Homo sapiens: one gene and its partners. The protein of the gene in region 6 purifies or fractionates together with the protein of the main gene of each other region. This does not show direct contact. Each region holds a gene or a part of one and is shown on either strand. Other genes may lie near its edges. The genes, in order: IFT172, IFT80, CLUAP1, SDF4, KATNIP, IFT27 and CHP1.

Region 1 (4,252 bases), on a different chromosome or scaffold from region 6:
ATACACACACACATACATATATATAATTATATTTTAATATATTTAAAATTGGGATGCAGGTATAGTTTAAATGACGCACCTTAGATACAGTGAAATGTGAGTGGGGGTCATGAGGGGGGTGAGATTGGCCCTCTAAATGACATATTCGTATGGTGATGCCCCTGCAAAATTTCCCTTAGGTTTTGAGGTTTTTTTGTTTGTTTGTTTATTTTGTTTGTTTGTTTTTTGAGACGGAGTCTTGCTCTGTCGCCCAGGCTGGAGTGCAGTGGTGCAATCTCGGCTCACTGCAAGCTCCGCCTCCTGGGTTTAGGCCATTCTCCTGCCACAGCCTCCTGAGTAGCTGGGACTACAGGTGCCCACCATCATGCCGGGCTAATTTTTTTGTATTTTTTTAGTAGAGACGGGGTTTCACCGTGTTAGCCAGGATGGTCTCCATCTCCTGACCTCATGATCCACAAGCCTTGGCCTCCCAAAGTGCTGGGATTACAGGCGTGAGCCACCGTGCCTGGCCTTTTGAGGTCTTAAAACTCAATAACCCCTAGAAGTTAGAGGGAGAGAAGTAGAAAGAGAGGGGCTGATGATTGGTTTTGAGGTTCTAGCAGATTTTAATCAGCAGTATTGAATAAGCATCTGATATATGTAACTTGGGAGCATGGCATGACTGTACCTTTTTCAGATTAGTCAGAAAATGGCTTCCTGATGCAGACAGGGCAGATTAAGCTTTGAAGGGCTTGGCAGTAAGAAAGGGAGGCAAGAACAGGTGAGGGAAAGACCAGAGGGGATTAGCATAAACTACAGTGAAATTGGATTGTGTGGAAATTGAAATCTGGTAAGGATGTCAGCATCATAATGGAAACAGAGTGATCTCATTGAACACTTGGGTTTGTAGAATTTCTGAGTTTTAAGTGTTGAAAGGTTATCATCAAGACCATCTATACCAGCACTGGCACTAGAAATATAATGCAGGCCACAAATGTAAGCCATACATGTCATTTAAATTTTCTAGTAGCCACATTTAAAAAGAGTAAAAAAAAAAAAAAACAGGTAAAAATAATTGTAATATATTTTATTTAACACAGTATATCTAAAATACACCATTTCATCTGGGCGCAGTGGTACATGCCTGTAATCCCAGAACTTTGGGAGGCCACGGTGGGCAGATCACTTGAGGATCAGGAGTTTGAGACCAGCCTGGCCAACATGGTGAAACCCCATCTCTACTAAAAATACAAAAATTAGCTGGGCATGGTGGTGGGTGCCTGTAATCCCAGCTACTCAGGAGGCCAAGACAAGAGAATTGCTTGAACCTGGGAGGGAGAGGTTGCAGTGAGCTGATATTGTGCCACTGCACTCCAGCCTGGGCGACATAGCAAGACTCTGTCTTAAAAAAATTAAATAAAATACTACCATTTCAACATGTACTCACACACATTATTTAGATATTTTCCATTCTTTTTTTATACTAAATCTTCAAAATCCAGTGTGTGTGAATGAAGAAACAAGTTCATAAAAGCCCAACACAAATAGTTACAGAATGCCCTGGACTCCTTATTTTAGGAGTCCTTTCTCTGTACTCTGCTACGAAGATTTTACTTATGACAAAGACCTTGAAAATGATTTTGTCAAAGGCGGAAGTTTCAAATGCAGTGACCTCAGGCAGCGCAGGAAGTATCTGAAAGAGTTAATGAACTGAGAGGAAAGATAGGTCCACTGATGGCTAATCAAAGGATCTAATGGACCATGAGCCAGGTTTTGCCCAGGAGGGTGCAAGGTTGAAGGGGAGAGTAAGAGAAAAAGTTGGCATCTGGAGGAGAAAAATGTATGAAATGGATGAGGCTGAGGACTCAGCGGTATTTGTCTCTCCTACCCATTTCCATCTTCTGTTCAACCACTCAGGCAGCTGAACTCTCCATCAAGTTTCTGCCTCCCCAACGTAATATGGAAGTCGTTCTGGCTGTAGGACCCCAGCTGATTGGAATTGGAAAGCACAGTGCAGTAAGTAGGATGCTGAGATGGAACAGAAATAGATTTCACAGAGATGGGTGCAAGGGTGACATCTACACCCAGGAAGGTGTGTGAGGTGGGCCTCCTGGTGGGCATGGCTTGCAGTCCTGGGGAAACAGATGGGAGAGCTCACAGTGGGAAGACTGGGAGCGAGGAGAAAGTCTCCACGCTGATTTCCCACTGTGCAGGCTGCAGAGCTCTATCTGAATCTGGACCTTGTCAAGGAAGCAATCGATGCTTTCATCGAGGGTGAGGAGTGGAACAAGGCGAAGCGTGTAGCTAAGGAGTTAGATCCCAGGTAAGCTTGTAACCCCTTCTTACTGCGAAATTCTCTTTTACTTCCTTTTGTAAAGACTGGGAGAAAGTCTTACCGGGAGGGTTGGTATTCTGGAACATGAAGATGGAGCTCTCTGAACATCTTCACAGGTATGAAGACTATGTGGACCAGCATTATAAAGAGTTCCTCAAGAATCAGGGCAAAGTGGACTCGGTGAGACTTGGAGAGTTAGCAGGAGGCAGAATGCAGGGAGAGACTCACAAGACTCTCTCCCTCTTCTTTCCCTCATGTCATCTCTTTTCTCTTGTAACTCTGTCTTCCATTGACCCAGCTGGTGGGTGTGGATGTGATAGCTGCTTTGGACCTGTATGTGGAGCAGGGCCAGTGGGACAAGTGCATTGAAACAGCTACCAAGCAGGTACTGCTCTCTTCCCATTCCCAGTTTTTCTTTACATTTTCCCTTGATTCCCCACCTGCCTCAAAGATGCATCTCTTCTACCTCCACAAAAACCCAAAGCCCAAAGATTTCTAATGGGCATCAGAGAAGCTCAGTCTGAAACTGGGGTCAGAGGTTTGCGTACACCCTTTTTCCCCTCAACAAATACATGGCCTCAAGTCACCTCACTGCTTGGTCTTGCCGATCCCAGCCTCACTCATGCTTTTCCTCCACCCCTGTACAGAACTACAAGATTCTGCACAAGTATGTGGCTTTGTATGCAACTCACTTGATCCGGGAGGGTAGCTCTGCCCAGGCATTGGCCCTGTATGTACAGCACGGAGCCCCTGCTAACCCACAGGTACCAGCCTTCTCCTTGGGTTGAATGTTTCCACAAGAAAGCTCTTTCTCCTCTAGAACCACCTATCTTCTCAGGAACTATCTTCTCAGAGGATTCTATCCTTAGAGAACGTCATGCCCAGAGCCCCCCACGCATCTCCAGAAATGTACAGCCTCTCTGGAGGCTGTGTATTTGCTAAGAGCATGGGGAGGTTTGCAGAAACTTCCAACTTCTGTTTGAAGAAACACCCGTGGAGCTCCCCATGCTGTTAGCAAATACACAGGCACCTGTCTTTCAGAGATGAATCCTGCATACACCTCTAGGGCCTTTATTGACTTCCTCCAGAGAATGAACACTGCTCCCTGATCTGAGTCACAATGTTGTGACTCTGCATTTACATTTGTACAGTTGCCCACACTCACACAGCACCAGCTAAGAAAGTTATTTCTTCCTCTTTTCTCTTTATCAAAAATAATCAGCACTTAAAAATAATTTACTTCATTAAAAATAATCAGCACTTAATAATCTGCCACTGTTGGCCGGGCGCAGTGGCTCACGCCTGTAATCCCAACACTTTGGGAGGCCGAGGCAGGCGGATTACGAGGTCAGGAGATCGAGACCATTGTGGCTAACACGGTGAAACCCCGTCTCTACTAAAAATATAAAAAGTTAGCTGGGCGTGGTGGCAGGCACCTATAGTCCCAGCTACTCGGGAGGCTGAGGCAGGAGAATGGCATGAACCTGGGAGGCAGAGCTTGCAGTGAGCCGAGATCATGCTACTGCACTCCAGCCTTGGGCAACAGAGCAAGACTCTGTCTCAAAAATAAATAAATAAAATTAAAAAAATAAAAATAAATAAAAATAAAAATCTGCCACTGTCCCCCAGCCCTTGCACACACACACATACCCATTTCTACACACAAAGCCTGTTTCTCCTCCCTTTGGCCCCACTTCCAGTGACTTTCTCTTCTAGCTATGCCCTTCTCAGATCCCCTTCTTCCCTCTACCTCTAGAACTTCAATATCTACAAAAGGATCTTCACTGACATGGTGAGCTCTCCTGGAACCAACTGTGCCGAGGCCTATCATAGCTGGGCTGATCTTCGAGATGTCCTCTTCAACCTGGTGAGGAAGCGAAAGGGCTGCTCCGTCTGTCCTTGTCCTCATCTCTTCTTTGATGCACATAAACCTTTATT
Region 2 (3,500 bases), on a different chromosome or scaffold from region 6:
ATAATTACCCTTTTTCTAAATAGATCTCATAATGATTTTCAGTCATCTACTTAGATTTATATAGAAAAATGGTGATTGAAATCATCCTTAAAAAATGATTTTCAATTTTTTATTATTATTATACTTTAAGTTTTAGGGTACATGTGCACAATGTGCAGGTTAGTTACATATGTATACATGTGCCATGCTGGTGTGCTGCACCCATTAACTCGTCATTTAGCATTAGGTATATCTCCTAAAGATATCCCTCCCCCCTCCCCCCACCCCACAACAGTCCCCAGAGTGTGATGTTCCCCTTCCTGTGTCCATGTGTTCTCATTGTTCAATTCCCACCTATGAGTGAGAATATGCGGTGTTTGGTTTTTTGTTCTTCCGATAGTTTACTGAGAATGATGATTTCCAATTTCATCCATGTCCCTACAAAGGACATGAACTCATCATTTTTTATGGCTGCATAGTATTCCACGGTGTATATGTGCCACATTTTCTTAATCCAGTCTATCATTGTTGGACATTTGGGTTGGTTCCAAGTCTTTGCTATAGTGAATAGTGCTACAATAAACATACGTGTGCATGTGTCTTTATAGCAGCATGATTTATAGTCCTTTGGGTATATACCCACTAATGGGATGGCTGGGTCAAATGGTATTTCTAGTTCTAGATCCCTGAGGAATCGCCACACTGACTTCCACAAGGGTTGAACTAGTTTACAGTCCCACCAACAGTGTAAAAGTGTTCCTATTTCTCCACATCCTGGACTTGTTTCAAAGGGACCAGGAGATTTTAGACAGGAAGGAGAAACAGAATCAACTGTCCAGATACAGTAACGAGAGATAAAACTCTGACATATGGGAGTTTGGGAGGCAAAATAGCTTCTACTTGAGAGATCTATAAGAAAAGCAGTTTCCAGGGACAGGCATGGTGGCTCATGCCTGTAATCCCAGCACTTTGGGAGGCCGAGGCGGGCGGATCAGCTGAGGTCGGGAGTTTGAGACCAGTCTGACAAACATGCAGAAACCCTGTCTCTACTAAAAATAAAAAATTAGCTGGGCATGGTGGTGCATGCCTATAATCCCTGCTACTCAGGAAGCTGAGGCAGGAGAATCGCTTGAACCCGGGAGGCAGAGGTTGCAGTAAGCCGAGATCGCACCATTGCACTCCAGCCTGGGCAACAAGAGTGAAATTCCGTCTCAAAAAAAAAAAAAGAAAAAGAAAAGAAAAGCAGTTTCCTTAGGAAACAACCAGATTTAAGTTAGACTTTGAGAGTAAAGGGATCATTCAGAATAAAAGTGGAGGACTGATTTGGCTAATGACACACAGTGAGTTCCAAAAAAACTTAGATGGTGAAGAACTAATGGTTTAAGATAGATGGTTGGAGATGGTAGAAACAGCTGGCTATCCTGCAATATCCATTCATCCCTGCTTCTGTGGTATGAATTTGAAGTTTTGCTATACATCTGGCCACCTAGAACAAAGACTATGTTTCCTAGCTGCCCTTGAAACTAGGTGTGGCCACACAAGGCATTAATAATACTGAAACCAACAGTGGCTATTATAATATCATCAACCTACTGGCCCAATCTGGATTTTATATTCTGTGAGGGGTAGAAATGAGGTAAGAGGCAGGACTCAACTCCGGAGGCAGAGCTCAGACACGGGACCAGATTGGGGACTGGCTAAAACACAGAAGAGGTGAAAGCACCTCTCTGTAAGAAATGCCTATCAGTATGCCATATCAGTTTACTATTGCCATGGTAACACCAGGAAGTTACCTGTTTTTCTAGAAATTTCTGCATAGCCCACTTCTTAATTTGCATATAGCTAAAAGTGGGCACAAATATGACTGCAGAAGTGCCTATGAGCTGCTCCTCTGGGCACACTACCTATGGGGTAGCCCTGCTCCGCAAGGAACAGTACCTCTGCTGCTGCTATACACTGCTGCTTCAATAAAAGTTGCTGTATAACACCACCAGCTTGCCCTTGAATTCTTTCTTGGGCCATCCCAAGAACACTCCTGGGCTAACCCCCAGTTTTGGAGCTTGCCTGCCCTGCATCAGATATACTGCCCAACAGTAATAGTACGTACCTAAGTTCACATTGCCTAATTTCACAGTGAGTTATCTAAGGAACCCATTTCATTACTTCTTATAAACGTTACATAAAATTGCCCGGCACAGTGGCTCACGCCTGTAATCCCAGCACTTTGGGGGGCCGAGGCAGGTGGATCACAAGGTCAGGAGATCGAGACCATCCTAGCTAACACAATGAAACCCCGTCTCTACTAAAAATACAAAAAATTAGCCGGGGTGGTGGCACACACCTGTAATCCCAGCTACTCAGGAGGCTGAGGCAGGAGAATCGCTGGAACTCAGGAGGTGGAGGTTGCAGTAAACCGAGATCACACCACTGCACTCCAGCCTGGGCAACAAAGAGAGACTCTGTCTCAAAAAAAAAGTTATATAAAATCACAGCATAATTGGCAAATAAAAACTCGGAAGAGTGACACTCCCCATGCCATGCCATCAAGGCCATGTATAACACAGCAAGATAAAAAAGAGCCAAGATTTCTGACCTTGTGGAAAGTCACATCAATCCTGTACCATCAAAGTTTTAAGTGATAGAGAATAGTTGCATCGTATTTAAATTACTGTCATCAACAGCTAATCCTAATAACAAACTAATGCAGGGAATTATCTTGAATGTGGAGACTGAGGTAAACAGGGATGTAAGGTATGACACAGTAGTCCCAAATGTCTCTTGAGAAAAGGTGGCTAATCAATTTAAACCATAGCCTTCTTGGAACTGCTCTCTTAGGCAGCATTGATACAGACTTTCATAAGGGAAAAAGGGGCAGTCCTCTAGCAGCATATGGAACTATGTGGGATTTCTTTTCAATCTTGATAAGGGTGTTGGCATTTACTTCACTAGCAGTTTAAGGAGGGAAAGGAACTACAGAGAATTAGAGGGAATAACCAAATGTTACTTTCTCCTAATATCCCCAGCCTTAAATGGTAGGCTCAGTCCTTGTGCCTCTTCTGTATCTGCACTCACTGCCATGGTGAACTCATCCAGTTTTATAGCTTAATATGAATGTAAATATATTCACCATATAGTGACAACTACTAATTTCATATTTCTGGTTCATACCTCTCCACTGAACCCCACACTTTTATATCTATTTGACAACTCTATTTGAATGTCTAACAGACATTTCAAATTTAACAAGATCCAAATCAAAACCGTGATTTTCCCTTCAACTTTGCTCCTACCACATTCTTACCCATCTTGGTAAATGGCAATTCCATTCTTCCAGTTACAAACACCAAAAACTTAAGTCATCATTTACTCTTCTCTCACATACCAAATCCAACTTGTAAATAAAAACATTTGTTGGCTTTATCTTCAAAATGTAAAATATTTCACCGCCTCCACTATGACCGCAATCCAAGATGCCATCTTCTCTTAACCAGAATTACTACAGCAGCTTCCTAATTAGCCTC
Region 3 (4,252 bases), on a different chromosome or scaffold from region 6:
CACTTCTGAGTATTCCTGCCAACGATGCATATCTGACTCTAATGAGACAAAGCCGGATTGAGGGGCATTCTACAGATTAACCAGCCTGTATGCTCCCAGAGTGAAAAGGTTCTGAAAGTCAAGGAAAGCTGAGGGGGCATTTCAGACTGAGGGAGGCTGTGGAGATGTGATAACTGGACACATAGGCAGCTCCTATCTGCTGTTGGGGACTTCACTGGGACAAGTGGGGACAGTGGAGTGGGGCTGGAGTTAGACGGTGGTAGTGTGTTAGTGCTGGCTTCCTGTTTTGATGATTGTATTGTGGGGATGTAGGAGAAAGTCCTTATTTGTAGGAAATACACGCTAAAGTATTCAGGGTATTGGAACGTCTGGTCAGCAACTTACTGTCACCTAGGTTGGGAAAAACGCTTTGTGTTGTACAACAGGTTTTCCGTAAATTTTTGATTGTTTCTAAATTTAAAAATTAAAAAAAAATTATTATACCTCTTATCCTTGCCAGTGTTCTAACTGAATCAGGTGAACACGGCATGAATGTGCCCTTAGCACTAATATGTTAAAAGTAGAACACCCAAGAGAGGACAGGGTTCATTTCTTGGTAGACATCTCTTAAGACTCCTTTCATTGTTAGAAAATATCTGTGATGTTTGATCATTCTAAAAACAACCAAAACAACATGGGTACTTAAAAGGGTTTGGGGAGTACAGGCCATTTATTTCAGAAACCAGGGAAAATTGCTTGTGTTTACACAGCTGTTTTGCATTGTGGATCTTTCTTGTTTGAGGAACAGATATGTTTAAGGTGGGATAAATTTACTAGGTTTTAATCTGACTTTGGTTCGAGGAAACAGTTGCCATTAACTGAAGTTGTTTAGAAAGGAGACCCACCTTTCTTCCTGTGAGGGTGAACTCGCATTTCTCCTGGGGGCTCTAAGGCACTTGCAGCAAATCGATGATAAGGGTCTGATTATTTTCATGAAAGTATCTTAGAAGTGGCTAGTGTACTTAGACCAAAAAAATTAGACCATAAACGCATTGTCAGTAACAGTGGCTGGTTCCAAAACACACCATGCCTGAGAGTTGTGGAGAGTGTCTGGGCTTCGTAGGCCATTTCTCTGTGGAGCCCATAGCTTTTCAGAGACTTGCAGGAAAACAGAGTAACCCCTTCGTGGGATGCTACACATAGGCAAAGAGCTGGAGGGGAAGCCCCACCTTGGCCACCAGGAACTTAATGCAGGGCTGGAAAGCCAGAACCCTGGGGGGCAGTTCCACGCTCAGCTGGGTGGCAGTCCAGATTCCTCATAAAGAGATTGGAGCCTGAACCCCAGGCATGTGATCCAGCCAGCCACCGGACAAGACGCATGTGAAGACGGCGCACTACCAGTGACTCTACCTGCTTCAAATGAACCTTCTCTTAGGATAGGGAGACTTGTGTCACCGTCAGTGGGCCCGTGTCCCCCTTCCCTTCTTTACTCAGCCTCTGTTGCCCAAGGGCCTCTGTCCAACTGTTGCCCTGGACCCCTTCCAGAGCTGGTGCACACCAGTGTGGCCATTGCCACTGTGGGAACTGCTTTCGTACTGTCTTCAGAGTGGTTTCTCCTCGTTTTTAGTCTGTAGTCAAGCTTCTGTTGCCAGGGAGAGGGAAGAGGACCTTCTCTCAATCCCAGCAGGCAGTGGGTTAGGGCTGGGACCAGCTGTTTCTTTCTCTCCCCTCCTAGTAGAGCAGTACTTGGTGTGTGTGGGTATTCTGTAAGTCGGGTGTTTGTAACTAGGGGCATGGCCCGAATGATAAAAAGGCAGACTGACCGTCCAGAGTGATGTGCACCTTGTTCTAACCGAGTGAGCCAGAGAAAAGACTGCAGGCCTCTCCACCTTGACCAGGACACTCTTCTTTGCATCTTCACTTCTTTCCCTGGGTAGAAATGCCTGCTTTTCATGGGGAAAAAAAAAGAGATACCTTTTTCTGGACCTGTGTGACATTCTCCCTGGAACTAGTGGGTTAAGTGAGTCATTGCTTGGGGAAGTGTCTATTTGTTTGCTTTTGTGTTTGTTGAGCATAATGTTGCTATGCCTGAAGAGTTGCAAAATTCTTCTAAGAATTAGGATGGCTGTTTTTATTGCCACCTTGTCTCATTATTTCCCATTAAATATAGACACAGGTTCAGAAGACTAAAGACCTGCTCAATAATGTGGCCTCTGATGAAGCTAATTTAGAAGCCAAAATCGAAAAGAGAAAATTAGAACTGGAAAGAAATCGGAAGCGACTAGAGACTCTGCAGAGTGTCAGGTAGATATGAACACTTGGAGAATGAGTAGAAAGATGTCCTGGAAAGTTCAAACAAACTGGGCGTGGTGGCTCATGTCTGAAATCTCAGCTACTCATGAAGCTGGGGCGGGGGGTTCTCTTGAGCCCAGGAGTTTGAGACCAGCCTGGGCAGCATAATGAAACCCCATCTCTAAAAATTTTTAAAAATTACCTCAGTATGGTGATACACACCTGTAGTCCCAGCTACTTGGGAGGCTGAGGCGGGAGGATTGCTTGAGCCCAGGAGGTTGAGGCTGCAGTGAGCTATGGTTGCATCACTGCACTCCAGCCTGAGCCACAGAACAAGGCCGAGTAACAGAACAAGGCCCTGACTCTAAAAGAAAAAAAAAGTTAGAACAAAGACTTAAGAGAATAGAATGTGATCTTAACTCTTCTCAAGCAATGAAAAAAAGCCTTACATAAGGGTATCTTCACCTCAAATGTACATGTGTTGCCTGTCATAACAAGCAGATGGCTAAACTCATTCTCTTTACTGCTTGCGGTATGTCTGGAAAACTGCTTAAAGCTTGAACTGCCCTTTAAGCTTTTATAGCTTCTTGGAACTCAAGGCAGAGTAAGTGAATCCAGACGGGGAAATCCAGACGTGGTCTCCTAAGATCTTGCCATAAATTAGGTAGAAACAGAAACATACTCCTGCCTGTTTGTTGGCATAGATTTTAGACTTTATTTAAACCTTGATCATTCCTCACCAGTCAGTAATTCATCTTTCTTCCTACGTTACCTCATTGGAAATATATTTCCCAGGAATACCGATGGAGAATAGTGGTGCCGGCTCTCTCTCTCTTCTCTTCCTCGTTCTGTGCCTCTTTCCCTCCCCCATGCTTCTGCTCTTTCTCCCTTTTCATTCACCCTTTATTTTTCTTTCTTCTTGGCTCCCTCCTCTTCCCAGCTGCCTACTCTGCTCGGATGTTTTGCCTTTTTGGATGTTGGTGGCTGGCTACACCCTGCCCACTGTCCCGAGGTCTGTGGGGAGGCAGCACCTGGAGGCAGCGACAGCAACCACAGGGAGCGCCCTGGCTCCTCCCTGCCCAGCGCAAGGCCAAGGCCCTTCCCCTCCTGAAACTGGCTCTTTACCTCTGGAGCCTCAGAGAGGGAAAAAAAAAAAAACAGAAGTCATTGCCGCCATATAGATTGATCTCCTTGACACATTCCACTTTTAAAGCATCAATTCATTTTTGTTAAGCTCCAAATCATTTTAACAGAAAAGTCTCTTTGTTTTGCTCTAGTTCAAAAGATTATAATTATTTCTGAGTTTATCTGCTTATATTTTTAAAAGAGTAGAATTTTCCCTTTAAGGTCAATAATAAGAAAAAAGAAAAAGTTCAGCAAACCAGTATAGATTTTTATGGTTTTTTTTGTTTTTGTTTTTTTTTTTTGAGTTGGAGTTTCGCTCTTGTTGCCGAGGCTGGAGTGCAATGGCGCGATCCCGGCTCACTGCAAACTCTGCCTCCCGGATTCAAGCGATTCTCCTGCCTCAGCCTCTCAAGTAGCTGGGATTACAGGCGGCCGCCACCACGCCCAGCTAATTTTTGTATTTTTAGTAGAGACGGAGTTTCACCATGTTGGCCAGGCTGGTCTTGAACTCCTGACCTTGTGATCCACCTGCCTTGGCCTCCCAAAGTGCTGGGATTACAGGCATGAGTCATCATCACGCCTGGCCTTTTTAAAAAATTTTTTATCGTTTAAAAACCTCTTTAGACTGGGCACAGTGATTCACGTCTATAATCCCAGCACTTTGAGAGGCCAAGGCGGGCAGATCGCTTGAACTCAGGGGTTCAAGACCAGCCTGGGCAATATGGCGAAACCCCATCTCTACAAAAAAAAAATATAAAAAATAGCTGGGCATAGTGGCACATGTCTGTAGTCCCAGCTACTTGGGGGCCTGAGACAGGAGGATCACCTGAGCCCAGGCGTTCGATGCTGCAGTAAG
Region 4 (4,252 bases), on a different chromosome or scaffold from region 6:
AGGCCACATGACTTAGCTAAGGTCATAGATCTCAAGAATGTTCAAGTCAGGGTCTGGAGAGTGACCCTAACCCCATGGGTCAGTGGCATGATGCCAGGAGGGACAGAGCCGGGCCCCACAGGAAAGCTGTGCTGCAGGTGTTGGGCGATGGGGACAGGTTAGCCCCTGGAGGTGCTGACAGCTCGAGAGAGAGATGGAAAGACGGAGAGACAGGGCTGAAAACTCAGTGTCTGTAAAAAAAAGACCGGGCACAGTGGCTCACGCCTGTAATCCCAGCACGTTGGGAGACTGAGGCAAGAGGATCGCTTGAAGCCAGGAGTTTGAGACCAGCCTGAGCAATACAGCGAGACCCGTCTCTACAAAGAGTAAAATAAAAATAAATTACTGGGCGTGGGGGTGCACGCCTGTGGTCGCAGCTGCTCCGGTGGCTGAGGCGAGAGCATCACCTGAGCCCAGAGCATCACCTGAGCCCAGGAGTTCGTGGTCACGGTGAGCTGTGGTCACCGCTGTACTCCAGCCTGGGTGACAGAGCAAGACCCTGTTTCTAAAAATAAAGAAAAAAACACCACGTGTGGTCCGGAGAAAACAAATGCCACGTGTGGTCCAGAGAAAACAAATGCCACGTGTGGCCCGGAGAAAACAATGCCACGTGTGGTCTGGAGAAGGCAGTGCCACGTGTGGTCTGGAGAAGGCGATGCCACATGTCTGGATCCTGTGAATCGAGGATATGTTTCATGTTGCAGGATAGACGTGCTTGGGGAAGTCTTTGCTGAGTCTTGCTAATGATGTGTCTGTGTCTCTCTGCAGACTGTGAGCTGCTTGTCCCCATCCTGCGGCCGTCCTGGGGACACAGAGCCCTCCGTGGTGCCCGGGGATTGGATTGGAGCCAGGACCTCACTTCCTCCTCTGCCCCTGCCCCTGCCCCTCCCAGCACCTGGCCCACACCCTGCAGCCCGCCCCATGGTCTGGCCCTGGGTGGCGATGGCGTCCAGGTGGGGTCCCCTCATTGGCCTGGCTCCGTGCTGCCTCTGGCTCCTGGGGGCAGTCCTTCTGATGGACGCGTCTGCACGGCCTGCCAACCACTCGTCCACTCGAGAGAGAGTAGCCAACAGGGAGGAGAATGAGATCCTGCCCCCAGACCACCTGAACGGGGTGAAGCTGGAGATGGACGGGCACCTCAATCGCGGCTTCCACCAGGAGGTCTTCCTAGGCAAGGACCTGGGTGGCTTTGATGAGGACGCGGAGCCGCGGCGGAGCCGGAGGAAGCTGATGGTCATCTTTTCCAAGTAGGTGCCGCCATGTGCCCAGACTGGGGGGCTGTCCGCGTGCGCTCGCCTGTGTGTTCCTATCCTGGCTTTGCGCGGTGGGGGGCGCCGGGCCCTGTGTCGGGACCTGCCGGGCTGGGAAGACGTGCCGGTGATGAGCGCCACTTCCAGCCTGCTGTGTTTGCGCGGAGGCCTGCGCTGGCAGCCCAGAGCCGCTCCTTGAATGCCCTGGGTCCGCCGGGGGCTCAGAGGGCCAGAGTGGGCCTGTGTGGCCGTCCCTAGGACAGCCTGGAGGAGCCCACGCGGCACTGCAGTGGTCAGCGTCCTCCATGCTGAGGGGCAGACGCCGGCCACGGGCAGCCTCCGCAGGCTGCAGCCCCAGTTGGACGAGGCCTGGCTGAGGAGTGAGGGGCTGCCACAGGTGGCTGGAGAGCTGGTACAGGGTGCTCTGGGCTCCTCCTGACACGCCCTCTACCCTGTGTGTTTGGGGTCCCTGTCACACACGGGCCGCGTATCACACGCAGGCTGGGGGTGTGTGGGGTTGGCTTGTTTTGCTGGCCTGGTCGGGAGCAGAGCTGTGCTGTCAGTGGCCCATCCTTGGCCGTCACTGCCCCCACCCTGCTGAGTCCCGAGACCCTCTTGCTGCCTCTGTGCCTAGTGCCGAGCTTTCTCCCCCGACCCCATCCCTGAGTCTCGAGAGCCTGTTGTGAGGGGTCCAAGATGGGTCAACCTGACCACTCACCCACAAGGAGCCAGGTCCTGCACGGGCGCCTTACTCCTTACGGCACGGCCGGGGTGCCCTGCGGTGTGGCCCTGGAACCTACTTGCACTCAGCGCTGGCCTCACCCCTGGAGGCAGAGCAGGGTCAGGGCGTGCCCGTGAGTCCCCCAGGCCAGCCAGGGTGCCGGGCAGGGAGCCGAGGTGCAGGTGAGAGAACACCCTGGGCCTCCTGGGACCTGCGAGACCTGGGCACAAGGAGGCAGCCCCCGCCGCAGGGCCTGGCCACGAGCTCACCTTCCCGCAGGGCCTGGCCACGAGCTCGCCTTCCCGCAGGGCCTGGCCACGAGCTCGCCTTCCCGCCGGGCCTGGCCACGAGCTCGCCTTCCCGCCGGGCCTGGCCACGAGCTCGCCTTCCCGCCGGGCCTGGCCACGAGCTCGCCTTCCCGCAGGGCCTGGCCACGAGCTCGCCTTCCCGCCGGGCCTGGTGCTCCAGGACCAGTGCAGAGGGGCAGGTGGCAAAGCTGGTGAGCAAGGGGATTGGGCAGGGCTGGGGTCCTGGGGTGCAGGAGCAGGTAGGAAAGGTGTGAGGACTGGTCTGGCTGTGCCACGGCCCTTGGGCTGAGGGCCAGGCGGGAGGGCCCTGAGGATCCAGGCTTTCGGGCGGAGCACAGGTGAGCTGGTGGGACGGAGGCACGGTGCCAGCTGGAGGACCTGGGCACCAGGTGTGGTGTCCCCTTGCACCTCTCCTCAGATGGTACGGTTCGGGGGTCCTTGCGTGGCCTGAGTTCACTTGGTGGTGAGCTGACCAACCCACGAAGAGGCTGCTGGTGCCCCTGGGGCCTGTCAGGTTCACCACCCCTGAGCTCACGAAGGCCTGGCTCGCGGCATCACAGGGGAAGGGTCCCCGTCCCTGCTCAGCCGGTGCTGGGGGTGGGCTGCACGCCTGGGCGAGGGGAGTTGAGGCTTCTGCTCGGTGCGTCTCCAGCTGGACCGGGGTTTCTTTTTGGTGCCTGTAACGAAACCCCAAGCTGTCTCGTTTGAGGAGGTGGGCATGGGGAGTGGGAAGTAACAGCAGGTCTCCGGGTCTCCCTGACTCCTGCGCCGAGCGGCGACAGCGGCCGCTGTGGGTGTTTAGACTTCCCTTCCCACACGCGGGTCCCTTCTCGCCCTTCTCCTGCGTAGGGCCCCGTCCCTCCAGGACCCACGTTCACTCAGCTGTCCTGTCTCCTCTGTCTCCTCTGGGCTGGAACGGTGTCTCAGACTCTCCCGTTTTTGTGAGGACGTAACAGTTCTGAGAAGGGCTGGGTAGGAGGTTTTAGGCTGTCCCTCAGTTTGGGCTTGTGGGATGTGTTTTCTCCTGACCGTACAGGGTTGAGGGTTTCTGGAAAGAGCCCCCAGAGGGGAGGTGCCATGTTTCCTCCTGACCGTACAGGGTTGAGGGTTTCTGGAAAGAGCATCCAGAGGGGAGGTGCCCTGTCCTAGGGGCTTTTGAGCTTCACTTCCTTCCCGCTTCCCTGCACCACGAGATGCTCCAGGCTTTCCTTCCCGCTTCCTGGCACGGTGAGATGCTCTGGGCTCGCCTCCGTGCCACCTGCCCCAGTGCAATAGCTGCCGCCTTTCCAGGAAGCCCTGTCTCCCGTGGCTGGAGCTGGAAGCCAGGGTCTGGGCACTGGGCGTCTTGCCCTTGTTCTCTCAGGAGCCAGAACTTGATAACATGCGTGTGTGCACCAGCCCAGTCACATCTGTGTTCTGCCAGCCCTGTTCACGTGTGTGTGCTGTGTACACGTGGGTACCGGCCTGTGCACTTGCGTGTGTGCGTGCCAGCTCCATGTACGTGCACCGCCCTGCAGCCGTGTCTTCAGGCACCTGAGTTTGGATGAGTGACTCCTTGCCGACATCTTGACTGGAATCCTGCGCCATGTGGTTTCTTTCCACCTTTTTGCTTTTTGCTCTGCCTCGTGTGTGTCTGTGTCTGTGGAGTGTGTAGAGCGTGTGGAGTGTGTGGCCCGTGTCTGTGGCATGTGGAGTGTGTGGCCCGTGTCTGTGGCGTGTGGAGCGTGTGGCCTGTGTCTGTGGCGCGTGTGGAGCGTGACCGGAGCATTCGAGGATGCACGTGTCCACGTGAGACCCACCAGGTGCCCCACCTGCCACATGGCCACCCGGGTGGCCCCGTCCCCAGCCGGTGTGTTTTGGGGACTGTGGAGCTGAGGGTGCCTCCCAGGCCCGTCCACCTCTGGGCTGCTGCGGCTGCTGAGGGAGGGGCGCGT
Region 5 (4,252 bases), on a different chromosome or scaffold from region 6:
AAAAAATCAAGCTACAAAGAAGAAAATAAAAGTCCTTCCTGCTCCCCACCCAGAAACCAGGAACAACACTGTTAACACGGGTGCATGTCACCCGTACCAGGATATGCTGCATTTAAAGCTGCGTATCTGGCTTTTTCCTTTTAACGTTCTTTTACAAACCTTCCACCTGCCATTAAATTGTCTTTGAAAACACCGTTAGAGTCACGTGACTGTGACAGTCTCCAGCACACACCCTCTTGTGGCTGACTCAGACGCCTCAGGCAGCAGCATTGCCCCTGGTCATGTGAGTTTCTACAGTGGGGAGCGACTCCTGGCAAAGTTTCTAACACAGCCAAGTAGTCTTCCCTTGGTTCACACGATGATTGCATTCTTAGAAAATTCAGTCTATGAAAAAATGCTTTGTGTTTTTGCAAAAACAACCAGATTCTGGAATTGGGTGATCATAGACAATTATTTTACCGACCTGAATGGCCCACAGGACAGTCAGAAGCTGTGTGGGACAGGAGACCAAGCTCTGTGCCAGGGCCCCCATGCAGTGCAGGATGGTAACATGCCTGGCCCCAGCCATCCAGTGCCAAGAGGCCTCTTGGCTAAGGAGACAGCCGGGAACAACCCCGCTGGTTTCTAGAGGGCTCCCCTGGAGGTGGCCCTGCCTCACTGAGAGCCACCACAGGAGACAGTCTCTAATGGTCCCCACTTCCACACATGCCACTCACAGGGCTTCCCCCCTCTTGTGTCCTTTCTTCCAGAAGACACCTGGTCTTCCAGGACGCCGTCACGGTCAAGGTGGCGCAGTGAGCAGGAGCACACACTTCACGAGTCATGGAGCTCCCTCAGTGCCTTCGACCGCTCCCACCGGGGACGCATCTCCAACACGGAGCTCCCGGGGGACATCCTGGATGAGCTCCTGCAGCAAAAGAGCAGCCGGCACAGCGACTTGCCCCCCTCCAAGAAGGGGGAGCAGCCAGGGCTGTCGAGAGGGCAGGATGGCTACTCTGGAGAGACAGACGCTGGGGGTGACTTTAAAATCCCCGTCTTGCCTTATGGACAGCGCTTGGTCATTGACATCAAGTCTACCTGGGGGGACAGACACTATGTCGGCCTCAACGGAATAGAAATATTCAGTTCCAAGGGTGAACCGGTGCAGATTTCAAACATAAAAGCAGACCCTCCCGATATCAATATTTTACCAGCCTATGGGAAAGACCCCCGCGTGGTCACCAACCTCATCGACGGGGTGAACAGGACCCAGGATGACATGCATGTCTGGCTGGCCCCCTTCACGCGGGGCAGATCCCACTCCATCACCATTGACTTCACGCACCCTTGCCACGTTGCCCTGATCAGAATTTGGAACTACAATAAATCTCGGATACATTCCTTCCGAGGCGTGAAGGACATCACAATGCTGTTAGACACCCAGTGCATCTTTGAAGGAGAAATCGCCAAGGCCTCTGGAACCCTGGCGGGAGGTATGGCGTGTCTGTAAGAATTTTCTCAGAGCCCCTATCTGTGACTTGCTGAGAGTCTATGGGAAAAAACAGACCAGCTGGCTAGCCAACAACAGATCAGTCCTTTCTCTTTCTTTTTTTTTTTTTTTTTTGAGACGGAGTCTTGCTCTGTCCCCCAGGCTGGAGTGCAGTGGCGCGATCTTGGCTCACTGCAAGATCCGCCTCCCGGGTTCACGCCATTCTCCTGCCTCAGCCTCACGAGTAGCTGGGACTACAGGCACCCGCCAACACGCCCGGCTAATTTTTTGTATTTTTTTTTTTTTTTTTTAGTAGAGACAGGGTTTCACCATGTTAGCCAGGATGGTCTCGATCTCCTGACCTCATGATCTGCCCGTCTCGGCCTCCCAAAGTGTTGGAATTACAGGCGTGAGCCACCGCGCCCAGCCCTTTTTTTTTTTTTTTTTTTTTTTGGGTGGGGAGACAGGATCTTGCCCTGCACAGTGGCATGGTTTCGGCTCACTGCAGCTTCGACCTCCTGGGCTCAAGCAATCCTCCCACATCAGCCTCCTAAGTAGCTGGGACTACAGGTGCACCAACCCACCTGGCTAATTTTTGTATTTTTTGTAGAGACGAGGTTTCACCATGTTACCCAGGCTGGTCTCGAACTCCTGGGCTCAAGTGATCCACCCACCTTGGCCTCCCAAAGTGCTAGGATTACAGGCATGAGCCCCTGCACCCAGCCACAGACCCGGTCCACTCATCCCCTCTTACAGCATGAGTGTGCTAGGCCTGACCTCATTCAGCATCTCCCATAAAGCACCTGTCTTGGTCCGGCCCCTAGAACCTGAGTCTGAGATGGGGCATTCTTTGGCAAGTGACTTATGGAGGGAGTGCTCCTAGGAGAAACCTGGCATAGTGAAGCAAGGATATAGTTTCCAGGAAGCCCAGCCACAACCAGATCTTGAGGGAGGTCTGGAACATAAATTTCAGGTCTTTCCTGCCTGAAGGTGAAGGAGCAGGGCGTTAGAACCCCACCTACCAGGCAGTCATTGGAACCAAGGCTTGCCGGGTTGGAGCTGTAACTCCCACACCCTTCCAGGCAAGGCACTCTGAGAAAAGGATCCACCAAGATCTGGGTGGGGTACCAACAGCGTCTTGCATAGTGCCTTGCCCACCCCAAAGAAATGTCACTTGCCTGATGACATATCACAGTGATTCTCATGAAATTAGATCCCTTCCTTAGATCCATGTGATGCTTATGGTCCGTGCATTCCATTTGCAAATCTGTGAAGACTAATAAGGCTCACACTAATCAATACCAGTTAAGGGTGTGGGGTTGTACAGCACAGAAGTGGATGGGTTTAGGCTCTTGATCTACAAATCTCTGGGATGTGAAGTGAGTTGACCTTTCTGTCATCTTGATAACCCATTAGCCCCAGAGCACTTTGGAGACACGATCTTATTCACAACCGATGATGACATTCTCGAGGCCATATTCTATTCTGATGAGATGTTTGACCTGGATGTGGGGAGCCTGGACAGCCTGCAGGATGAAGAGGCAATGAGGAGGCCCAGCACGGCCGACGGCGAGGGGGATGAGCGGCCCTTCACCCAGGCTGGCTTGGGGGCTGATGAACGGGTAGGACTGGAGCTGGGGGGCTGTGGGGGGACCCCCAGATAGGTTTCTTCCCCTAACTCAGAGTAGAGCAGGGAGAATTAAGATGGATATCCTTTAAGCTGCTGGTGCCACTGTGTTGACATTTCCCATCTTTCTACTTTGTTTTTTTGTCCTCTATGTCATATTTCATTCTCTAATTATTTTTATTTTTTTATTTTTTTTTAACCGAAGTAAAGAAAGTATTCAAATTCTAATCAAAGCCAGGAGAAATGAGCTCTGTGTCATCTCTGCAATTCAGAGGTTGGCAGTCTGGGGGGAGTTTTTGCTTGGGGTTGCGTTTTGATCATTCACTGTTGTTTTTGATGGAAGGACTAGGAATGCTTTTCATAGGCAGAGTTACAGTTAAAATAATGATCATCACAGCCATGGTTTCATGAACACATATCATGATCCAAGCAGGGTACACAGTGTTCTTGTTTCACCCTCATGACAACCCTCTGAGTAGAGACTATTAACATTGCCATTTCGGAAACTGATGCTCAGAGAAGTCAAGTGACTTGCCCAAGGGCACATTGTGACAGAGAAACAAGGGTAGAACTTGAATGCGTGATTCCACAGTTTATGCTTTTAATTGGTAAGCAACTTATTATTTTTTTATTTTGTTTAGAGATAGGGCCTGGCACTGTCGCCCAGGCTGGAGTACACTAGCGTGATCATAGCTCATTGCAGCTCAAACTCCCGGGGCTCAAGCAATCCTACCACCTCAGCCTCCTGAGTAGCTGAGACTACAGTGCATGCCACCATGCCTGGCTAGTTTTTTTTTTATTTTTTGTAGAGATGTGGTCTTGCTATGTTGCCCAGGTTGGTCATGAACTCCTGGACTCAAGCGCTTCTCCCACCTTGGCCTCCCAAAGTGCTGGGATTACAGGCAAGAGCCGCCACACTTAGCCAGATAAACAAATCTTTTAAAATGAAAGATGACCTTCAAGGTCAATTCAAGTCAGGACCAATAGGAAAAAGAGGAGATGGTTAAACAGGGTAGGGGAGAAATGGGGACAACACAAGCCACAAGGGATGGGGCTGGGCTGTGGGAAGGTCATGACTGAGGCAGGACAGCAACATGTCGTGTGGACCCCATGGTGTTCCCTGGGGATTGTACCTCGCAGCCAGGCAGAGCATGGGG
Region 6 (4,252 bases):
GCTGGGGCCTGAACCCATGTCTGTTTCTACAAAGCCTGTGCTTTTAGTTGCAGTCACTGTACGTGTGACGAGATGTGAAAATGACACCTTTCCTCAGTTTTGACTGAGGCTCCAAAGGCCAAAGCAAAATACCAAGGAACCTGGAGCCCCCCATCCCGAAGAAGAGCTAGACAGCATGGGGCACCCTCTTCCTAGGCTGGTGCTGGACCCAGGCCTGGGAGGAATCGAGGTGAGGTGGTGGCTGGGCAAGCCAGGAGAGGGCTACCAATGAGACGGCCTCGCTGCCTCCTTTGTCAAACTAAACGGCTGCAGCAGCACTTCCCTGAACCAGCGGGGGCCAAGTGGAGCCAGCCTGGTGCTGTCTTAAGGGGGCTCGGCTGGGACCGCCTCCAGGAGGGTGACGGGTCCCAATAAGAATGAACAGCCAGGAACTGGGGCTGCAGGAGGAGTGAGGGGGGACCACCTGTGAGAAGCAGCCTGCAGGTGAGACAGCGCCACTGATGGGGTGGGGAGGGGCATCTCAGAGGCGCCCATGGGGCACCAGCCGGATCCACCCAGCAGGTGTGGAGTGGGCCACGACAGACCCCAGCAAACACGCTGCACTCCTGGCTCCGGTCTCTCCCTCCCGAAGACTGTGAGAGGAGGTGCCACTTTAAATCAAGTTCAGAATTTTGACAATCACCCAGGGCTGGGCACTTTAATACCTGAAATCGTGAATATCTTTGTGACTAAAGGAGCCCAAAAGAATTTTTGTTACCTGAGAGAGAAAAGAGAAGTTCAGGAACTTGCCCTAGATTTTATCTAAGCGGTGGAAAAAACGGGCCCCTCCAGGGTGCACAGGGACAGGCTGGAGGGCAAAGGAAATGGCGCCCTCTCTCTTAACAGCCACTCTCACTCTGTTGGGTGCACGTGTGCATTCAAAAACTTTCTCAGAAAAAAGTTGGCAGAAAAAGGAATGTACTACTTTCAAGACAGCAGCTCAAGCTATGAATGCACTAAGAACCTGTTTTGAGACGATCCCTGGCAGCTGGCAAAAGTGCAACCTTGAGAAGAGGCCGTGAAATATCCCCAACGAAACAGAAGGATTTCCAAACTGAAGAACGTTGCAGAAGGCATCAAGCGCGGTGCCTTCGCTTCACAGATGAGTAGTTTGGGGCCCAGCGGGTGAAGCGGCCCAGCTGGTTGGTGCAGAGCCCAGCCCAGCATCCAGATTCTCTGATTTGGGAAGAGCTACCTTTCCTCGAGGCCAGCTGGGATGTGCGAAGGAAACCAGGTCCCGTGGAGAAAGTTACCTGGACTTTCTAGCAAGGGAAAGCCTAAGTAAAGAAAACAGTTGGCCAAGAGGAAAGACAGTGGTGGCAATGCTGAGAGAGTGCCGAGGAAAGAGTGGAGAGTTTGTAGCCAAGACGAACATTTATAGTAAGCTCCCAACAGCCAAGGACTTGAAAGCCATCACCGTCCAGCTGGACACGAGAGCAAGAATTCAGTACATCCTGCCGGGCCCTGCTAGTTGTGCAGAGCACAAGGTCCTAGGCAAGCCAGTGTCGGGGTAAAACACTGCTTCCGTCGAAAGTAGAGTTAAGAATGGAATGGAAAAAGACTGAGGCCTGCATAGCGCACGCACGGGGATTTCAAAATGGATTCGAAAACACTCCACAATGCAATCTTGGGAGATCGCAACATAAAAAGGAAGGAATTCAATGCAGGTGAGCCTCAATAGACACCACGGCGTGCTTCTGAAATAGATGAAAATTGAACTGTTTTCCAAATACTTTGAGAGGGTTACCAATGACAGGAATCCTTTCGTCTGATCACTAATCATCATCTCGCTTACACAGTCAGGACAGCTGTGGAGTAGGTCGGCTTAGAGGGATTCTCAGGGCAGGTTCAGGCTAGTGTTCAGTCTGGCCTTGAATTGTGTTCTGCAGAGTCCCACAGCAGGCTCCGCAGGAGGCCAGGGTACCCCTTCTAGAAAACCCAAGTTTTCCAGCTGGACAGGCCTGACTCCTAGTCCTGTTTCTAGCCCTCGTTTAACTATGCAACCAGGGCAAGCTACACAACCTTTCTGAGTCTGTCATCTATACAACACAGGAGTGTTACCTTGTAGGGCTGTTATGAAGCCTAAACAAATAATGTGTGCAAAACACCTAGCACACAGTAGGCCCTCATCAAACGTTACTTCCCCACTCCTCGCTTGCCTGGGAGGGCAGTGATCAGCGCGGATTGTTCTTGCACTTGTTTGTAGGGACCTCCTTTGGGTAGGCAGGATGGTCACTGCGGTGTTTAGGCAGAAGAGAGGAGGAGATGAGCTTGGCGCCAGCCCTTGGCTGCGTCTCAAGCTGCGTTTGCTTATATTTCCTTTTTAATTACAGCTTTCTTAACCGAGCTGCCAGCGGTGCTTCTGTGAGCCTCAACTCAGGGGGGACTAGTTAACTTGCACAGATAATAGCAAGTGCTTACTGCAGCCTCTTCAAGAGTAGTTCACACCCACCCACCCACTTCAACACCTCAACAGAGTTTAACCCGTAGCCCACTGGCCTTTGGTGACTCCTGTTTTGGAGGTTGGGGTGGGTTTTAATTTCTGAGTTCTATCAAGCGTTCTAGGGAATATGGAATATTGGGGTGCAGGGACAATTTCACAAATGAATGGAGGAAGGGAGAATACTGAAATCCTGTTTGCTAGGGCACTACCGCCTACTGCTTTGCACAAAGGTGTGCTGCAGAAAAGATGGCAAACCCTCTATACAGGAAAAGCTGATTTGGGCTTCATTAATTTAGCATTTGTGATAATTGGACCAGAGGCAAGGGTGATATTTATCTCTGCACAAGCCATGAATACAAGGATTTAGTAAGTAATAACAGTATAAACAAGATTCTAGGGGTAATATTTATACTTTAAGAAAGCTAACATCTACTGAGTGTTTACCAGGCGCCAGACTCTGTGATCCATGTTTTATATGCGACATATTACTTGATTCTCATATTTATTACTCGATAAGGGATGTATTTTATGATCCTCACTTTACAAGCCTGAGCCACCAACAGGTGAAATAACATGTCCAGGTTCCCACGGCGAGTTCTGCCACTCACCATGGGAGGTCAGAGTGCCTGCCTTTACTGCTGTACTTTCCCTAAGGAAGCATGCTGCTTTGGGGGAGTTTTATAAGCTCGGACGGCAGCACTGGTCAAGGTTCCTAGATGCAATAGCAGAAGTGCCTAGAGCCAAAGTCAAGCTGGAGCAGAAGATGACCTCCAGAACATTAACCAGCCCATGACTCAATTCTGAGGGCCACAGAATCAGGTCTAAAGGCCACAAGGTGAGGTCCAAGTTACGACCATGACTGTGCCAGGCCTGGTGATCTCCCCAGCTAGCAACCCTGGCGAGGGGCAGGGCAACCAACACTCGGGCCCCTGCTGGCTCTGAGATGGATGTTCAGGGCCACACCTGTTCCTAGAGGGCAGATCATCACTTCATGCCCTTCCTAGTGGAGTCTCATGTGAGGGGTCTGATTGGTGCAGCCTGGGTCACATGGCTGCATCTTGGCCTCAAGGAGGATGGGACTTTAAAACTCCCAAACACAGGAAGCAGGTTCCTCAGTGCTGGACAGCTAAAATCATGATACATTAGGTTGGTGCAAAAGTAATTGCAGTTTTTGCCAGGAAAAGTGTACTGAAGACGCTGAAAATCACTTGCTTTTTGTAATGAGGTCTTCTGCTCTTTTAACTGGCAGGCACTTTGTGGCCTGGAGTCACCCTGGGGCTGCAGCAAGGTGAGGATGGGTGGTACCGATGGGAATTAGAGGCCATGAGTCCTAATCCTGGCTCCACCCTTCGCTAATCATGGGACCTTGGACAAGTCACTTGAGCTCCTCAACACTGGAATGGGAGCTGTGGGGCCAACTTCTGGTTCACAGGACTGGTTGTGAGAGCCACATGAAACAATGTTCCAACAACATCTGAACCCAGAATATTGCATGCAAACGTCGAGGGTCATGATCACCGCACACAAAGCACTTGTATTTCTTACTAGTTGAGATACACCTTTTCCCAGGGTTGGCTGGCTGATCTGCTTTCCTGTTATGTCTGAGCAGCTACTGCTATACTGAGAAGAGATCTCGGGTAAGAATGTAAACATCAGTTCCAAATGAGACTCTGCATATGGTGGAATAACAGCTCCCTGCACGTGAGGTCATGTGCAAGACCGCTGCCAGCAGAGGCCCACTCCAGACTTGGCGACGAGGCAAGTGGAAAT
Region 7 (3,812 bases), on a different chromosome or scaffold from region 6:
AATATATAGGGTGTACCATTCTGTAATGCCCTGTTTATACACCAAAGGCAGGTTTGTGTTGACAGAACATATTTGGGGTTGTCATGCAACAGCAGTAGTACTTTGGGAGAAGGGGAATGAGGGGGTGGAGGTGGAGTTGGTAGAAGGAGGACTTTCAAGTTCCAGTTCTTAAATACTAGACCGCAAGGAACAGTTTGGTCTCCTTTAGTGAAGAAATCGGATGCTCATTTTCTGTTCTACATCCACCTTCTCCAAAACCTGGGGGAGAAAACCAGTAACAGTTACAAAGGTTATGAAGATTACAACACTCCCAAGCTCTTATCTGAGTAATGTTTTCCCCCCTTCCTCCTGTGCAGTAAAACGTAACTTTTTTTTTTTTTTTTGGAGGCAGAGTCTCACTCTGTTGCCAGGCTGGAGTGCAGTGGTGTGGTCTCGGCTCACTGCAACCTTGGCCTCCTGGGTTCAAGCGATTCTCCTGCCTCAGCCTCCCAAGTAGCTGGGATTACAGGCACGCGCCACCACGCCTGGCTAATTTTTGTATTTTTAGTACAGATGAGGTTTCACCATGTTAGCCAGGCTGGTCTTGAACTCCTGACCTCGTGATCCGCCCACCTTGGCCTCCTAAAGTGCTGGGATTACAGGCGTAAGCCACCGCGCCCAGCCACTAAAACGTAACTTTTTCAAACAAGAAGTAAGTGACCAACCTTAACAAATTCTGTGAAAGATATGGCACTGTCCCCATCCTGATCAGCCTCCTGAATGGTCCTGTCTGCGATGCTGCCCAGCTGCTCATCTGAGATATTTACTCCGACCATCATGCGTAGCACCTGGAAGACCAAGAGCCAGGAATTACAAGGGCCTTGGGAATCAGAGGGACTCTTTACTAAGATTAAAAATAAAGCTATCACCATCCTCCTTTTCCTTTGATGCCCTCAAATACAGTCATGCACTGCATAATAATGTTTTGGTTAATGACCGACTGCATATATAATGGTGGTGCTATAAGATTATAATACTGTATTTTGATGAGAACACATAGACACAAAAAGGGGAACCACAGACACTGGGGCCTACCAGAGGGTGGAGTAGGAGGTGAGAGAGAAACAGAAAAAATAACTACTGGGTACTAGGCTTAGTACATGGGTGGCGAAATAATCTGTACATCAAACCCCCATGACAAGAGTTTACCTACATAACTAACCTGCATATGTAGCCCTGAACCTAAAAGTTAAATTTTTTTTCCTTTTTTTTTTTTTTTTTTGAGACGGAGTCTCACTCTGTTGCCCAGGCTGGAGGGCAGTGGCACGATCTCAGCTCACTGCAAGCTCTGCCTCCCGGGTTCACGCCGTTCTCCTGCCTCAGCCTCCTGCGTAGCTAGGATTACAGGCGCCTGCCACCGTGCCCGGCTAGGCTAATTTTTTGTATTTTTAGTAGAGATGGGGTTTCAGCATGTTAGACAGGATGGTCTCGATCTCCTGACCTCGTGATCCGCTCACCTCGGCCTCCCAAAGTGCTGGGATTACAGGCATGAGCCACTGCGCCCGGCCAAAAAATTTGTTAAAAAAGATTACAATACCATATTTTTACTGTACCTTTTCCATGTTTAGATGTAAGTATTTGTTTTTGGGTTTTTTTTTTGAGACAGGGTCTCGCTCTGTTGCCCAAGCTGGAGTGCTGGGTTGCGAATGTGGCTCACTGCAGCCTCACCTCCGAAGCTCAAGTGATCCTCTCACCTCAGCCTCCCCCAAGGAACTGGTACTACACTACAGGTGTGTGCAACCATGCCTTTTTTTTTTTTTTTTCCTGAGGCGGAGTTTCACTCTTGTTGCCCAGGCTGGAGTGCAATGGCACGATCTCGGCTCACTGCAACCTCTGCCTCCCCAGTTCAAGCGATTCCCCTGCCTCGGCCTCCCGAGTAGCTGGGATTACAGGGATGTGACACCACACCCAGCTAATTTTTGTATTTTTAGTAGAGATGGGGTTTCGCCATGTTGGCCAGGCTGGTCTCGAACTCCTGACCTCATGATCTGCCCGCCTCCGCCTCCCAAAGTGCTGAGATTACAAGTGTGAGCCACTGCGCCCAGCCACTTGGCTAATTTTTCAAAATTTTTTTGTAGGAATGAGGTCTCACTGTGTTGCCCAGGCAGGCCTTCAACTCCTGGGCTCAAGCAATTCTCCCTCTGCCACCTCCCAAAGTGCCGAGATTATAGGCGTGAGCCACCATGCCCAGCCACAGATATGTTTAGATACACAAATACTTACCATTATGTTACAACTGCATATAGTAGTCAGAACAGTAACTTGCTGCACGGGTTTGTAGTCTAGGAACAATAGGCCACACCACATAGCCTAGGTGTGTAGTAGGCTATACCATCTAGGTTCATGTAGGTACATTCTATGATGTTCCTACAACTACAAAATTGCCTAACATTGCATATCTCAGAATGTATCCCCATCTTTACCATCATGTGACTAAGTAACAGCTAAAAGGCTGAAACCTTTATCTTCTCATCTAGGCAATGATGTAAGCAGAACTTATCTAGGTGACTGGATAAGAAGACAAAGACTAAGGGAGAGTCCTTTGCATTTTGCCCTTCCTCATTCTTCTTACCTCATTCTGTCTGGTGGCACTGCAGCCACCCTGGAGCCATGAGGTGAGTAATATGAGCTATGGATGCCAGGGCAGGAACACAGAATAAGCCTGGTTCCTGGACATCAGTTAGGTACTGTACCAGCCTGGACAATCTATGCCAAACATTCTTGTTGCGTGAGCCTAACTAGTTCCTTATTGATTTAAATCAGTTTGGTGGGGCTTTCTGAAATCCCACCCAAAATGTCGTCCTCTTCGAAGTGCTGCATTAAGCCAACTATTCCTAAAGTATGGCCCAAGAAAACATAAAAATCCTTGAAGAGTTAAATGCTAAATCCCCTTCTGAGAAAAATAACAAGCACAATTAAAAGGCTGCGAGAATTGAGTAAGAGAATTTAACACTGTTTCACCAAATCTGTCTTAAACTTAACCAATCCTTGGGCCCCTGGGAATTCTATTAACACCTTTAGGGTGTGAACATACTTTGAAAATTGCTTCCTTAAACAAAATAAGCAACTTTAACAATTTGACTGTCAGGCAATATGGAAAGGCTGGTTCTTAGGCAATATGAAATGGGAGACAGGGTACCTTTCTGACTCCTTATATTATTATTGCAGTCAGCCACCTCTGTCTTCAGATGGCAAGAACTGAGCTTTTCCACAGAAAGGAAAGGGCCTCTAGCCCAGTGGCTCATAGACTTCCTTTCCTCCACTCCTTTACTCCCTTCTACAATCTCATGAAATAGATTCTTTTTTTTTTTTTTGAGATGGAGTCTCACTCTGTTGCCCAGGCTGGAATGCAATGGCACGATCTTGGCTTACTGCAACCTCTACCTCCCAGGTTCAGGCGATTCTCCTGCCTCAGCCTCTCGAGTAGCTGGGATTACAGGTGCCCAACAGCATGCCTGGCTAATTTTTGTATTTTTAGTAGAGACGGGATTTTGCCATGTTGGTCAGGCTGGTCTCGAACTCCCGACCTCAGGTGATCCGCCTGCCTCGGCCTCCCAAAGTGCTGGGATTACAGGCGTGAGCCACTGCGCCCGGCCTGTAATTTACTTTTTAAAAATCGATTTCATGGGCCGGGCATGGTGGAGAAACCCCATCTCTACTAAAAATACAAAATTAGCTGGGCGTGGTGGTGCATACCTGTAATCCCAGCTACTCGGGAGGCTGAGGCATGAGAATCGCTTCAACCCGGGAGGCAGAGGTTGTGGTGAGCCAAA

The links.
Region 1: the proteins of IFT27 (region 6) and IFT172 purify together in Homo sapiens (affinity purification with mass spectrometry; 2 studies listed by BioGRID and IntAct, with this or other methods). This does not show direct contact.
Region 2: the proteins of IFT27 (region 6) and IFT80 purify together in Homo sapiens (affinity purification with mass spectrometry; 2 studies listed by BioGRID and IntAct, with this or other methods). This does not show direct contact.
Region 3: the proteins of IFT27 (region 6) and CLUAP1 purify together in Homo sapiens (affinity purification with mass spectrometry; 3 studies listed by BioGRID and IntAct, with this or other methods). This does not show direct contact.
Region 4: the proteins of IFT27 (region 6) and SDF4 purify together in Homo sapiens (co-immunoprecipitation; one large-scale study listed by IntAct). This does not show direct contact.
Region 5: the proteins of IFT27 (region 6) and KATNIP purify together in Homo sapiens (tandem affinity purification; one large-scale study listed by IntAct). This does not show direct contact.
Region 7: the proteins of IFT27 (region 6) and CHP1 purify together in Homo sapiens (co-immunoprecipitation; one large-scale study listed by IntAct). This does not show direct contact.

What each region holds. Positions count from the first base shown.
Region 1 is NC_000002.12:27,447,741-27,451,992, reverse strand, and holds part of IFT172 (intraflagellar transport protein 172 homolog), read left to right. Parts: intron 1-1,896; coding exon 1,897-1,995; intron 1,996-2,192; coding exon 2,193-2,302; intron 2,303-2,430; coding exon 2,431-2,494; intron 2,495-2,612; coding exon 2,613-2,699; intron 2,700-2,961; coding exon 2,962-3,078; intron 3,079-4,070; coding exon 4,071-4,181; intron 4,182-4,252. UniProt on the Homo sapiens protein: Required for the maintenance and formation of cilia. Plays an indirect role in hedgehog (Hh) signaling, cilia being required for all activity of the hedgehog pathway.
Region 2 is NC_000003.12:160,389,226-160,392,725, forward strand, and holds part of IFT80 (intraflagellar transport protein 80 homolog), read right to left. Parts: intron 1-3,500.
Region 3 is NC_000016.10:3,517,754-3,522,005, forward strand, and holds part of CLUAP1 (clusterin-associated protein 1), read left to right. Parts: intron 1-2,149; coding exon 2,150-2,283; intron 2,284-4,252. UniProt on the Homo sapiens protein: Required for cilia biogenesis. Appears to function within the multiple intraflagellar transport complex B (IFT-B). Key regulator of hedgehog signaling.
Region 4 is NC_000001.11:1,225,502-1,229,753, reverse strand, and holds part of SDF4 (45 kDa calcium-binding protein isoform 2 precursor), read left to right. Parts: intron 1-807; 5' UTR 808-960; coding exon of another isoform or gene 961-981; coding exon 982-1,286; intron 1,287-4,252. UniProt on the Homo sapiens protein: May regulate calcium-dependent activities in the endoplasmic reticulum lumen or post-ER compartment. Isoform 5 may be involved in the exocytosis of zymogens by pancreatic acini.
Region 5 is NC_000016.10:27,748,835-27,753,086, forward strand, and holds part of KATNIP (katanin-interacting protein), read left to right. Parts: intron 1-749; coding exon 750-1,472; intron 1,473-2,884; coding exon 2,885-3,090; intron 3,091-4,252. UniProt on the Homo sapiens protein: May influence the stability of microtubules (MT), possibly through interaction with the MT-severing katanin complex.
Region 6 is NC_000022.11:36,758,646-36,762,897, forward strand, and holds part of IFT27 (intraflagellar transport protein 27 homolog), read right to left. Parts: intron 1-4,252. UniProt on the Homo sapiens protein: Small GTPase-like component of the intraflagellar transport (IFT) complex B that promotes the exit of the BBSome complex from cilia via its interaction with ARL6. Not involved in entry of the BBSome complex into cilium. Prevents aggregation of GTP-free ARL6.
Region 7 is NC_000015.10:41,275,782-41,279,593, reverse strand, and holds part of CHP1 (calcineurin B homologous protein 1), read right to left. Parts: intron 828-3,812; coding exon 705-827; intron 259-704; coding exon 205-258; 3' UTR 1-204. UniProt on the Homo sapiens protein: Calcium-binding protein involved in different processes such as regulation of vesicular trafficking, plasma membrane Na(+)/H(+) exchanger and gene transcription. Involved in the constitutive exocytic membrane traffic.